2 separate regions of the Homo sapiens genome follow, and region 1 is linked to region 2. A link means that fine-mapping ties the variant in region 2 to the expression of a gene that starts in the linked region. Tissue or cell type: whole blood. Region 2 holds a variant in brackets; the other region holds the start of a gene. All regions are shown on one strand. Distances are between the middles of the regions. Region 1 holds the start of SLC35G1 (solute carrier family 35 member G1). Region 2 has its middle 35 kb from the start of SLC35G1.

What was found. PIP is the estimated chance that this variant, and not a neighbour inherited with it, causes the effect.
Region 1: it holds the start of SLC35G1, and the variant in region 2 is the best candidate, but not a certain one, in a credible set for the expression of SLC35G1 in whole blood (TOPMed, PIP 0.54).

What each region holds. Positions count from the first base shown.
Region 1 is chr10:93,892,786-93,895,696 of GRCh38, reverse strand. SLC35G1 (solute carrier family 35 member G1) reads right to left here and starts at 1,719. Exons shown (of 3, transcript NM_001134658.3): 1 at 1,486-1,719. The coding sequence starts at 1,663. RefSeq lists a silencer at 1,316-1,745.
Region 2 is chr10:93,927,258-93,930,168 of GRCh38, reverse strand. No RefSeq gene overlaps it. Among named protein-coding and RNA genes, the nearest start is that of SLC35G1, 35 kb to the right of the region's middle. RefSeq lists an enhancer at 2,036-2,911. The variant A/G (reference allele first, on the strand shown) is at 1,672.

The sequences.
Region 1 (2,911 bases), 34 kb after region 2:
AGAACAAGAGGTGTCACAAAGTTCAATGACAACAGTAAAGTGTTTTTATGTCAATTTTCTTTCCAAAATATTATCTTGTCACCTTACAATAACTAAGTCTTACTGGTAGAAACTTTCTTTGAAGTTAAACACCCACAAGATTCTTAGATACACTCACGTAAGTTTCTCATCTTGCCATGAGCTGCCTGGGAGTAGAGAATTCCTCTTCCATTCACAAAAAGGGGAAACTTTAAGAGTTTGCATGGACTGATTCGGCATGCCACCAGAAGGACATTCACCCAGAGGGTGATAGGTGAGAAACTGACCTTTTCAAAGGCTGCTTATCTGTTCAATTCAGCCTGGCATAACCCCTGTTCTAGAGGCACCAGCCCATTTATAAATGATCACAAGTCTGATCATTTCGGTTTGCCTTTAGGACAGAAATGGAGCAAGAATAGTCTTCCTAGAGTCTGTCTCTCTAACTTGGGGAAAGTGCACAAAGGGAGGAGGGGAAAGCGCAGTGAGAGGAGAGGAACAGAAATCCAGGGTCACACTTAGGGGAGGTGACCCAGAGGACAAGGTGGTGCAGGCCGTGTAACTGTCCTAAAAAGAGATCTGCCTATTCCCTTCTTCTTGCAGGAAGCTGCTCCTGGTAGATGGTCGACTTCTAAGAGGAATGTGCTTGAAGCAGCACTTGTGGCCAGTGGAAAGGGCCCTAGGCCGGTATATGGCAAGCTGGGATCCTAACCCTGGTGCTCCCTGGACATGCGCCCCATCTCACCCCCACGTTCCACATCTTGGAGGAGACAAAGCAAACGAAAACCCAAAAGCCCTCACCTTCCTGGGCCTCACTTTGCTCATGTGTCGAAGGAGGGGGACTGAACATAAAGTGTTCTTCACGAGGGGTCCCTGACTTTGGGGACGGGGCTGTGAGCTTCTTAACAAGATATGCCTTGTTCTGCATCGTTTGCTAAAAAGTCCTTGTATCCCTAAAGGTTAAAAACTAGCGGTCCCACTTATCTCTGCCTTTCCAAGATTCTAAAACTCTAGGACGAACATTTTTTCTAGACTCGATGCTTTTCAGCTTCCTTTTCGGAGAGAACCCTTAACCACCGGGATCACTTTTCAGGGTCAGCTTCCTCGCAACGTCGCCCCACTGCAGGATGGCCTCTCTCGCTGACCCCCCACCTACGACCTAGGGGAGGGTACGCCAAACTGCAGTCTGACTCCACAGCCCTGCCCCGACACTAATTACAGGAGCAGCCTCGGAATCCCAAAAGGACTGCTAACAATCGGAAAGTTTCTTCCGTCTTAGCGCCGGCTGGGGCGCCGGGAATTCCGCTTTGCAGCCCCCCAGCTGACAGCTCGAGGGGTTTCCCGAGCCCCGGGCAGGGTGGGGACGGAGGCGCGGCGGGCACTGTGCCCGGGTTGCGGGGACCCCAACCCGCCGGCGCCCGCTCGGGACCCCCGAGCGAGACCAGAGCCCGATCCACACCGCGCACTCACCCGGCTCGGTGCGGGAGCAACACGGCGAGGAAAGGCAGAGCCAGCACCTACCGCGGTCTGGCGCCCCAGCTGCCTCGGCGGCCGCCGGCTCCTCAGTGGCGCCCGGGGGTGCATCGTCCGTTAGCGGCAGCCCGGGCTCCTGGAGCTCCGCGACCCCGGTGCTGTCCTGAGGCCGCATCTCGCGGCACGCGCTCTACCAGCGGCCGGTGCCGTCTGGCGCCAGCAGCAGCGCCTGGGCTGCCGCTCTTCCGGCGGGCGATGGCGCCCATGCGCATGCGCGCCCGGCCCACCCGCACCCTCCCCCAAGGAGACCGCGCGCGTCCTCCGCTGGCCTCTTAACCTGGGGAGACCCGCTGCCTCCCTGGTCGGGCTGTGGTGCCCACAGCTGGCTCTAAGGCGTCCAACCCTCTGCTGCGTTCAGGCTACATGGCCCAGCTGCTTGGAGCCATCCTTGGCAAGTCACACTGAACCTGTCTGTCATGGCACAGACAAGGAGGGGCGCTGGGTTCCCAAGCCCTGGCGCCCGGGGGTCCTGTGGCCTCCTTTTCAGGAGGCTCAAAGAGTGGGCGTTTTTTCATTGATGTAACCACGCATTCAGCACCTCTGTGATACCCCGAAGATTTTACAAAGCACCATGCTTGTCTTTAAATGGTCTAGGGTTTTTATGTTTTGTTTTGTTTTGTTTTGTTTTGTTTTGTTTCCCGTGTTGTCCCTTTGCTGCTTACCAAGGAGGGTAGAATTTTGCTGTTTTGGGAAATATTTTTAAGAAAGAATTAGTGTGTAATTATAGGAAAATATATCTATAAGACTGACCAGAACCCATTTATATGTTCTTTGCATTCTTTGCAAGAGTAGGCATGCATTATTGATCTTTGGTTTTCTTTTCTTAAATGGAAATATCCTAATTTGGCCAGATGTAAGATTCAAGTAATCTGATGTAATTAGACCTGGTAAAATATATTCTTTGGCCCAGGATTCACTAACAGCCTCTTTTTGTTTAGCTAATAATTCTTCTTCCATCTCTTTGCTTGCTTTATATGTGGAAGAACAGTCTCTGTGCAAGGATGAACGTATCTAAACTTCTAAGTCCAGTGCCAAGCAGATCACCAAAGGAGAGTGAAGTTTGCCTTTACTCAGACATTTGCACATAGTGATCCACAGCTGAAACAGTTTTAGACTTGAAGTCAGGAATCCTAGGTTCTGGCCCTGAGTGTGTGACCTCAGTCACCACTGTACCCCTCGAAGCCTTGATTACCTCCTTTATTTAATAGCGATCAAGTATTTCCCTTCCTGCTTCGCAGAGTAGTTATGTAAATAAAATGCAATGATGTGGGCAAAAGCATAATATCACCTGGAAAACACTATGTTAGAAAATCAAAGTGTGTTTTAAACTAGGGTCAGCATATAATTTATCCTCCAAACTGGA
Region 2 (2,911 bases):
CTCTTTGTAGGTCTCTAAGGACTTGCTTTATGAATCTGGGTGCTCCTGTATTGGGTGCATATATATTTAGGATAGTTAGCTCTTCTTGTTGAATTGATCCCTTTACCATTATGTAATGTCCTTCTTTGTCTCTTTTGATCTTTGTTGGTTTCAAGTCTGTTTTATCAGAGACTAGAATTGCAAACCCTCCTTTGTTTTGTTTTCCATTTGCTTGGTAGATCTTCCTCCATCCCTTTATTTTGAACCTATCTGTGTCTCTGCACATGAGATGGGTCTCCCAAATACAGCACACTGATGGGTCTTGACTCTTTCTCCAATTTGCCAGCCTGTGTCTTTTAATTGCAGCATTTAGCCCATTTACATTTAAGGTTAATATTGTTATGTGTGAATTTGATCCTGTCATTATGATGTTAGCTGGTTATTTTGCTCGTTAGTTGATGCAGTTTCTTCCTAGCCTCAATGGTCTTTACAATTTGGCATGTTTTTGCAGTGGCTGGTACCGGTTGTTCCTTTCCATGTTTAGTGCTTCCTTCAGGAGCTCTTGTAAGGGAGGCCTGGTGGTGACAAAATCTCTCAGCGTTTGCTTGTCTGTAAAGGATTTTATTTCTCCTTCACTTATGAAGCTTTGTTTGGCTGGATGTGAAATTCTGAGTTGAAAATTCTTTTCTTTAAGAATGTTGAATATTGGCCCCCACTCTCTTCTGGCTTGTAGAGTTTCTGCTGAGAGATCCACTATTAGTCTGATGGGCTTCCCATTGTGGGTAACCCAACCTTTCTTTCTGGCTGCCCTTAACATTTTTTCCTTCATTTCAACCTTGGTGAATCTGACAGTTATGTGTCTTGGAGTTGCTCTTCTTGAGGAGTATCTTTGTGGCGTTCTCTGTATTTCCTGAATTTGAATATTGGCTGCCTTGCTAGGTTGGGGAAGTTCTCCTGGATAATATCCTGCGGAGTGTTTTTCCACTTGGTTCCATTCTCCCCATCACTTTCAGGTACACCAATCAGATGTAGATTTGGCCTTTTCACATAGTCCCATATTTCTTGGAGGCTTTGTTCATTTCTTTTTACTCTTTTTTCTCTAAACTTCTCTTCTTGCTTCATTTCATTCATTTGATCTTCAGTCACCAATATGCTTTCTTCCACTTGATCGAATCAGCTACTGAAGCTTGTGCATGCATCACGTAGTTCTCGTGTCATGGTTTTCAGCTCCATCAGGTCATTTAAGGTCTTCTCTATGCTGTTTATTCTAGTTAGCCATTCATCTAATCTTTTTTCAAGGTTTTTAGCTTGTTTGCGATGGGTTCGAACATCCTCCTTTAGCTTGGAGAAATTTGTTATTACCGATGGTCTGAAGCCTTCTTCTCTCAACTCGTCAAAGTCATTCTCCATCCAGCTTTGTTCTGTTGCTGGAGAGGAGCTGTTTTCCTTTGGAGGAGAAGAGGCTCTCTGATTTTTAGAATTTTCCGCTTTTGTGCTCTAGTTTCTCCCCATTTTTCTGGTTTTATCTACCTTTGGTCTTTGATGATGGTGACGTATAGATGGGGTTTTGATGTGGATGTCCTTTTTGTTTGTTAGTTTTCCTTCTAACAGTCAGGACCCTCAGCTGCAGGTCTGTTGGAGTTTGCTGGAGGTCCACTCCAGACCCTGTTTGCCTGGGTATCACCAGCGGAG[A/G]CTGCAGAACAGCAAATATTGCAGAATGGCAAATTTTGCTGCCTGATCCTTCCTCTGGAAGCTTGGTCTCAGAGGGGCATGTAGCCATATGAGGTGTCAGTCGGCCCCTACTGGGAGGTGCCTCCCATTTAGGCCCACTTGAGGAGGCAGTCTGTCTGTTCTCAGATCTCAAACTTTGTGCTGGGAGAACCACTACTCTCTTCAAAGCTGTCAGACAGGGACGTTTAAGTCTGCAGAAGTTTCTGCTGCCTTTTGTTCAGCTATGCCCTGCCCCCAGAGTTGGAGTCTACAGAGGCAGGCAGGCCTCCTTGAGCTGTGGTGGGCTCCACCCAGCCACTTTGTTTACCTACTCAAGCCTCAGCAATGGCAGACACCCCTCCCCCAGCCTCACTGCCGTCTTGCAGTTTGATCTCAGACAGCTGTGCTAGCAGTGAGCGAGGCTCCGTGGGTGTGTGGGACCCTCCAAGCCAGTCATGGGATATAATCTCCTGGTGTGCCATTCGCTAAGACTGGTGGAAAAACACAGTATTAGGGTGGGAGTGTCCCAATTTTCCAGGTACCATCTGTCACGGCTTCCCTTGGCTAGGAAAGTAAATTCCCCCACCCCTTGTGCTTCCTGGGTAAGGCAATGCCCCACCCTGCTTTGGCTCATGCTCCGTGGGCTACACCCACTGTCCAACAAGCCCCAGTGAGATGAACCCAGTACCTCAGTAGGAAATGCAGAAATCACCTGTCTTCTGCGTCGCTCACACTGGGAGCTGTAGACTGGAGCTGTTCCTATTCGGCCATCTTGGTACAACCGAGACAGACTCTTAAACTAATAATTAGAACACCCACTAGAACAATTACTGAGGTAAGAACAGGGCACTCCAGAAGGAGAAAAGGGGAAGAAACTCACTGTAACTGGGAGGTGAAAGTTTTTTGCTTTTTGTTTTTTTGAGATGGAGTCTTGCTCTATCACCAGGCTGGAGTGCAGTGGTGCGATCTTGGCTCACTGCAACCTCTGCTTCCCGGGCTCAAGCAATTCCCCTGCCTCAGCCTCCGAAGCAGCTGGGACTACAGGTGCCCGCCACCATGCCCAGCTAATTTTTTGTATTTTAGCAGAGATGGGGTTTCACCATGTTGGCCATGATGGTCTTGATCTCCTGACCTCGTGATCCGCCCACCTCGGGCTCCCAAAGGGCTGGGATTACAGGCATGAGCCACTGCGCCTGGCTGAGGTGAAAGGTTTCAAAGAGAG